Linked DNA regions of Homo sapiens. The protein of the gene in region 1 interacts with the protein of each later gene in a pairwise test. Each region holds a gene or a part of one and is shown on either strand. Other genes may lie near its edges.

Region 1 (3,816 bases):
CTGACCTGCTAGATTTTGGCACTGTGGATGTGTCTGGGCAGTGCAAGCCCAGCACAGTGCCAGGCGCTGCCGGCTCTGGCATGGTGTCCTCGTGGCTATGGTGATGTCCTTGTGGCTGTGGTGGCTGCCCCGTGTAGCAGCACTTTCCCTGCCCACTGAACCCACTCCTTCCCTCACAGATGACACATTTACCTTCTGGCGGGGGCTGAAGGACGCCGGCCTGCTGGACGAGGTCATCCAGGAGTTCCACCAGGAGCTGGTGGAGACCATGAGAGGCCTGCAGCAGCGGGTCCAGGACCCTCCCCTGCAGCTTCGAGGTGAGAAGCTGCATCTTCCCTCTTGCTGGCTACTCAGCCCAGGAGTCTCTGCAGGAGGTGAGGCCACTGGCCCTCCTGCCCCTAGGCCCTTCTGTGCTGCTGGGTTGGAGGCTGAATCTAGGCTTGGGACTCCTGCTGTGCTGAGGCTGAACTTGGTGGGAGGATCGCCTTGATGTATCTCAGTCTTCTCCCTCTGAACTGAGCTCCTGGCTGGCTGGGTTCCTGAGGAGCAGCCTCAGTGGTGGTGTTCTCACTCTCTAGGAAGAGCCCAGGCTCTCACCGAGCGTCCACGTGACTCTCTAGGAAGGTCCCGGGCTCTCACCGAGCGTCCGCGTGGCTCTCTAGGAAGGGCTTGGGCTCTCACTGAGTGTCCGCGTTACCCTTTAAGATGCTGTACTTCTCAACAACATCGTGCAGAACTTCGGCATGCTGGACCTGGTGAAGAAGGTGCTGGCCAGCCACAAGTGCCAGATGGACCGCTCGCGGGAGCAGTACGCCCGGGACCTGGCAGGTATGCTGAGACCACCCCCGTCCCGTCCCCTGGGCGGTAGGCTGAGGACCTGGAGCCCACGGGCTCACCCCACGGCTGTGCATCCACCTGCACTTCCTGGAGTCACCGCCACCACGGCGAGCTTCTCCGCACTGCTGTTGTGCGAGGAAAACAACCTGAAGCTTAAGTGAGGTAGTCAGACCTCTCCATTGCACTAAGCTTACATTTACCGGCATTTCTGTGATGAACCAAGTAGTTATTTAAGAGAAAATGACAGAGGCCAGGCGCGGTGGCTCACGCCTGTTATCCCAGCGCTTTGGGAGGCCGAGGCGGGCGGATCACTTCAGGCTAGGAGTTTGAGACCAGCCTGGCCAACGTGGTGAAACCCCATCTCTGCTGAAAAAAACAAAACAAAACTGGGCATGGTGGTGTGTGCCTGTAATCCCAGCTACTCGGGAGGCTGGCAGGCAATTGCTTGAGCCCAGGAGGTGGAAGTTGCAGGGAGCTGAGATCACACCACTGCACTCCAGTCTGGGTGACAGAGCGAGACCCTGTCTCAAAAAAAAACAATGACAGAGAATGGGAAGGGCTGGTCCTGACCCCGCTCAGAGCTCAAGCCCCTGATATTGGTGCGTTTCCTCCATGCTCCTCTTGGGGTCTGTGCTTACTGTGTGTTCACTGTGTGTGTGTTCAGTGTGTGTGTGTTCACTGCGTGTTCACTGTGTGTTCAATGTGTGTGTATTCAGTGTGTGTGTTCACTGTGTTCAGTGTGTGTGTATTCAGTGTGTGTGCACTGTGTGTTCACTCTTCACTTTGTGTGTTCACTGTTTGTGTTCATTGTGTGTGTGCACTCTGCATGTGTGTGTGCATGTTTATGTTTAAACACATGTGCCACATGTGCTGCTTTTCCTCCTCTCTCTCTTAATATGTCACAAGAGCAACTTTCCACGCTGGGTGTGTGAAAGCTCATGCGGGGATCTGAGACGGCATTTCCACGCTTGCACGCAGGCCCTGGGTCAGTGCAGGAGGGTCTGAGACGGGATTGCCACGCTTGCACACAGGCCCCGGGTCAGTGCAGACCCTGGGTCAGCACAGGCTGGTGTCTACCCCGAGGGCCATCTTGGGCCCCGTCTCCCACAGACCTCACCTTTGGCGGCCATGTGGTCATCTGGGTTTGTGGCATCAGGTGAGCAGACCTGGGTTGCCACTGACCCAGGGGCCACCCAGATGGTGTGGCGTGTCTGCCCCCATCCCCTGCATGCCGCCATCCATGCCCCCGTCCCCTGTGTGATGCCATCTGTACCTCCCTGCAGCCCTGGAGCAGCAGTGTGATGAGCATCGTCGCCGAGCCAAGGAGCTGAAGCACAAGTCCCAGCACCTCAGCAACGTGCTCATGACGCTGACGCCGGTCTCCCTGCCACCGCCTGTGAAGCGGCCCCGGCTTGCACGTGCCACATCAGGACCGGCCGCCATGGCCTCGCAGGTGCTCACCCAGTCTGCCCAGCTGGCGCTTGGCCCGGGCGTGCCCGTCCCCCAGCTGACCAGCGTGCCCCTTGGTAAAGTGGTGTCCACCCTGCCGTCCACCGTCCTGGGCAAGGGTTCCCTTCAGGCGCCCCCCGCCAGCTCCCCGGCCTCCCCGCTGCTCGGGGGATACACAGTCTTGGCCTCTTCCGGCTCCACCTACCCCAGCACAGTGGAGATCCACCCGGACGCGTCCAGCCTCACGGTCCTGAGCACGGCCGCCGTGCAGGACGGTAGCACGGTGTTCAAGGTGGTCAGCCCGCTACAGCTGCTCACGTTGCCTGGCCTGGGCCCCACCCTGCAGAACGTGGCCCAGGCCTCGCCTGGCTCCAGCACAATTGTGACAGTGCCCGCAGGGGCTGCCCCCGGGCCTGAGGAGCACACGGCCACCATTGAGGTGGCTGCCATGGCAGAGGACCACGAGCGGAAGTAGCCGACAGGAGGGCGAGGCCCCTGGGACGGACAGGGCTGGCTGTCTCTCAGCCGCGGCAGCAGGGAGCGGGCAGAGGCCGCAGGGCTGGCTCGGGCAGGTGGGTCACGTGGTCTGCAGAACCAAAGAGAGGAATCGCCAAAACAAATCACGAGAAGAGAGAAGGGGACAGAACAGCGAGAGCAACCTGGAAAATCGGTCTTCAGGTCCCACGTTTCCTCCCCCTTTTTTCTTGGGAAATATATTTTTCCATCTGTTGCTTATTAATACTGTTTACACATTGGGCCTTGATCAGGAGCCAGGTGGGCGGGGGCTAGGGGGAGCCTGGGTGCAGCAGAGACAGAGGAAGCAGAGCCAGGTGCCGAGCGCGACCCTGCAGGTGCTGGACGCGGTGCAGCAGGTCACGAGGCCCCCATGTCTGCACCCAGCCAGGTCCCTGGGGACGTTACTAACTCATGACTTGGGAGCTAAGCCCAAGTGTGAAACCTCTGGATCCTATGGATTTGGTTTCTTCCCACAGTTTTCTGTAGGTTTAGTGTGGCTGGCGCCCCGTTCTCCTCCAGTTGGGAACATGCACCCGGAGCTTGGGGTGCAGATCCTGATGGGTGCCTGCCTCCCCCGCCCCCAGCCGGTGCTCAGGTGGCCCAGGGGCCGCACAGACGAGGCGTGGTCCAGGCATTGTTGCACATGTACTGAGGGTGTTTTTAAGTGAATTGCTTAGTAGGCTTCTAGGAAGAGTCAGATTTATAGCATTTTCAACCAAAATAATGGTGAGTGCCTAGGCTTCCCGAGTTAGCTCTTTGGGTGGCCCCTGAGCCCCTGTGAGTGCACTTGACCGGGTGCGGAGGTCCTGGGCAGCCTGTCCCTGAGCCGGCCCCTCCCAGGGGTCTGAGATCCATGAGGTGTGTCCCTAGGGCTTCAGTCCTGGGGCAGAGGCATAAACAGAACCAGTCACTATGGAGGTCGAGGATTCCCATGTGGGCCCTTCAGCTTGGGCTGCTTGGCCACGGAACAGCCCTTGGCTCCCTGGCCCCCGGCCCCCATGCAGCCCCTGGGCT
Region 2 (3,168 bases), on another chromosome or scaffold:
AAGTATTTTACCAACCTCCTCGATGGCTTTGATAAAGGTTAGATTTGATGTTTTTTTTTAGATTTATTTTTCTTACTCCACTAAACTATAAAGAAAATAATTACTTAGAAACTCCATTTTAAATAATCATTTCCTAGAAATTCTTAAATATATACAGAATTTTAAAGAAAACATTTCATCTGATTTAGTTAGCATCCACATATCATTGAGGAATTAAAGTGTGGGACAGTCATTATTAAAAAAAAGAGAGAAAAGCCCTCTATTAGACATTCCACAATCCATGTTTTAAGCTTATCCAAAGGTCCAAATGTCAGCCATTCTGTATGTTCATGTTGATCATTTGCGAACAAGAAAGCAGGTTTCTAGGTATCACTTAGGATGTGAACTGCCTCTCAACTTTAAACCCTGTTAGCTTTACTTTTTTAAGTCCACAAGTGATGAAACTAGTTTCTCAGCTAGGCTTGTACTTTCCTCATTATTTCTAGTATTTCAAATATTCTCAAACAAAAGAGTTACCACTTTTCTCCATTTATTTTCAGTTATGGAAATGTTCCCTCTCTTCACCACTAAGCTCCAAAGCAAATGAAAGACGATCACATGTCAGGACAGTAGTAAAGGCAGCTTATAAATGGGACATAAATCAGAGATGTGTTGGTATTTTGAGACTCAAGACTGTCCTTTTTTAAAATAAAAATAAAAACATTACCAGGTTCCCAAGCCAATCTGGCTTAACCAACAGTGCACTGAAATATTAGTGTTTACCTCCAAGGCTAGGGAGCCAAGGGGAGGAGGAGAATTGGAGGAAGGGGAGATAATGGGAAGAGGATGGCGCCTTCCTGAGTTGGCTAGAGGGCCAACCTTTGATAACAGTTTGACGAAATCAATCTTTTTTTTTTTTTTTTTTGAGACAGAGTCTCACTCTGTCACCCAGGCTGGAGTACAGTGGTGGGATCTCGGCTCACTGCAAGCTCTGCCTCCCAGGTTCATGCCATTCTCCTGCCCCAGCCTCTCCTGAGTAGCTGGAACTACAGGTGCCCGCCACCACGCCCAGCTAATTTTTTCTATTTTTAGTCATGCCTGGCTAATTTTTTGTATTTTTAGTAGAGATGGGGTTTCACCGTGTTAGCCAGGATGGTCTCCATCTCCTTACCTCGCAATCCGCCCGCCTCAGCCTCCCAAAGTGTTGGGATTACAGGCATGAGCCACCGTGCCCGGCCTATAGAAATCAATCTTTTTGACTCTTCTCACTTTTATCTCCCCATGCCCAAGGTTTGCCTGTTCCATAACACTCACTCCCTTCCCCCTTGCTAATCAGAAGCCATCTCCTCTCAGTGTCTGATCTCTGCTCTTCATACATGATTACAGTCATGGGGTAGAGAGTGCTTGCTAAATTATGCAGTTAATCCTATGGTGCTTTAATTTTCAGGCCTTCAAAAAACACTTGTACAGTGATGTGCAGATTTTTAAACAGTTGAACTTCCTTGTACTACAGTTTTTGTATTGACAGCCAAATTTGTCTTTCATTCTTCAGATTGTGAATAAAGTGATTTTTACAGGGCTTCCAGCAAAGTTTTTCCTTTCATCTAAGGCTTGTAGAACCCTAGCTTATATAGCTGCTTACATGAGAAATGCAAAATCTGTATTCACCATGACTTTAGTAACAAAGGTAAAGTTTTTTAGTAGTGCCAAGGCAAGAGGAACAATCTTGGTGGTAGTACTAAGTTTTGTCAATATTGTGGTTTCCTGATTGTATTGTTGGCTTTCTCTCTGAGCATTGAGGTATACTAGAAGTAGAGCTTCTCAAACATAATATCATTACCTCATAAGCATTAACAAATCAGGCCCAAAGAGCGTAAGTCCTAGAAATTTGTTTTAAAGCAGCCCTAGTCATGGTGCTGGTGCTACCGCCTTGTTTTAGGAGCCTGCCTCCTGTCAGTATGAAACCCTCACCTGAAAAATGCCAGCCTGGACACCAAACACTGAGCCCCTTCAACAGGCACATTATTTCCCCCTGAGATCCATAAGGGAATTTAGTTTCTACTATTGTAGAGTTCTGAAAAGAGGTAAAATAGTAGTCCTTTGGTCATCCTATTTTTGCTTTCAATTTTGATATTTCAGACTGTAAAAGGCCTTGGGGGATGATAGTACATGTGGTAGCAGTAATTTTTTTGAAGCAACTGCACTGACATTCATTTGAGTTTTCTCTCATTATCAGATTCTGTTCCAAACAAGTATTCTGTAGATCCAAATGGATTACCAGTGTGCTACAGACTTCTTATTATAGAACAGCATTCTATTCTACATCAAAAATAGTTTGTGTAAGTTAGTTTTGGTTACCATCTAAAATATTTTTAAATGTTCTTTACATAAAAATTTATGTTGTGTTTTAAAATCCTTAGGGGCTTTATCTATTTTTCTAAGTCAGTTAACTGTACTTCTAAAAAAAGTATTTTGTATCTACTTTTGTAACTTCGTCAGAATAAAATATATTGAAAGCAAGAAATGACTGATTAAAGTATGTATATCAACACACATTTCTATTTAAATATAGAAACTTGAGAGTTTTGCAGATTCTGTGGATTTTTGAGTACAGCTTAAATTTGGAAAGTTATCTTTGCATATCATTTAGTAGCTAAAATGTTTTCTTAGCCGTTAAAAAAGGAAGTTCCTAAATGAACTAAGTATCATACTACTGGGACCGAACCCCTAAGAAACAAACTATGTCTCTGATAGTGGCTAAAACCCATCCCAAACAAAAATACGTGGTCTCCTTCCTGCCATGCAAATCAGGCTCCAGATCTCTTGTACATTCCTGGTTGTGCGATAGTAGAGTTAAAATTAAAAACTTAATGAATGTGGCTAAACAGTACAAGTTAACACTAATTTTATTTTTTTGAGCTGGGGTCTCTGTTGCCCAGGTTGGAGTGCAGTGGCACAGTCTTGGCTCACTGCAACCTCCGCCTCCCAGGCTCAAGTGATCCTTCTTTCTGAGCCTTCTAGTAGCGGGGACAACAGGCACACACCATCATGTCCGGCTAATTTTTTGTATTTTTTGTAAATATGGAGTTTTGCCATGTTGCCCAGGCTGGTCTCGAACTCCTGAGCTCAAGCAATCTGCCTGCCCCGGCCCCAAAGTGCTGGGATTACAGGTGTGAGCCACCACACCTG

The links.
Region 2: the proteins of GMEB2 (region 1) and MOB1A interact in binary tests that used the Homo sapiens proteins (3 or more experiments, as listed by UniProt).

Annotation. Positions count from the first base shown.
Region 1 is NC_000020.11:63,589,034-63,592,849, reverse strand, and holds part of GMEB2 (glucocorticoid modulatory element-binding protein 2), read left to right. Parts: intron 1-179; coding exon 180-317; intron 318-705; coding exon 706-828; intron 829-2,120; coding exon 2,121-2,761; 3' UTR 2,762-3,816. UniProt on the Homo sapiens protein: Trans-acting factor that binds to glucocorticoid modulatory elements (GME) present in the TAT (tyrosine aminotransferase) promoter and increases sensitivity to low concentrations of glucocorticoids. Also binds to the transferrin receptor promoter.
Region 2 is NC_000002.12:74,151,929-74,155,096, reverse strand, and holds the end of MOB1A (MOB kinase activator 1A), read left to right. Parts: 3' UTR 1-2,569; downstream 2,570-3,168. UniProt on the Homo sapiens protein: Activator of LATS1/2 in the Hippo signaling pathway which plays a pivotal role in organ size control and tumor suppression by restricting proliferation and promoting apoptosis.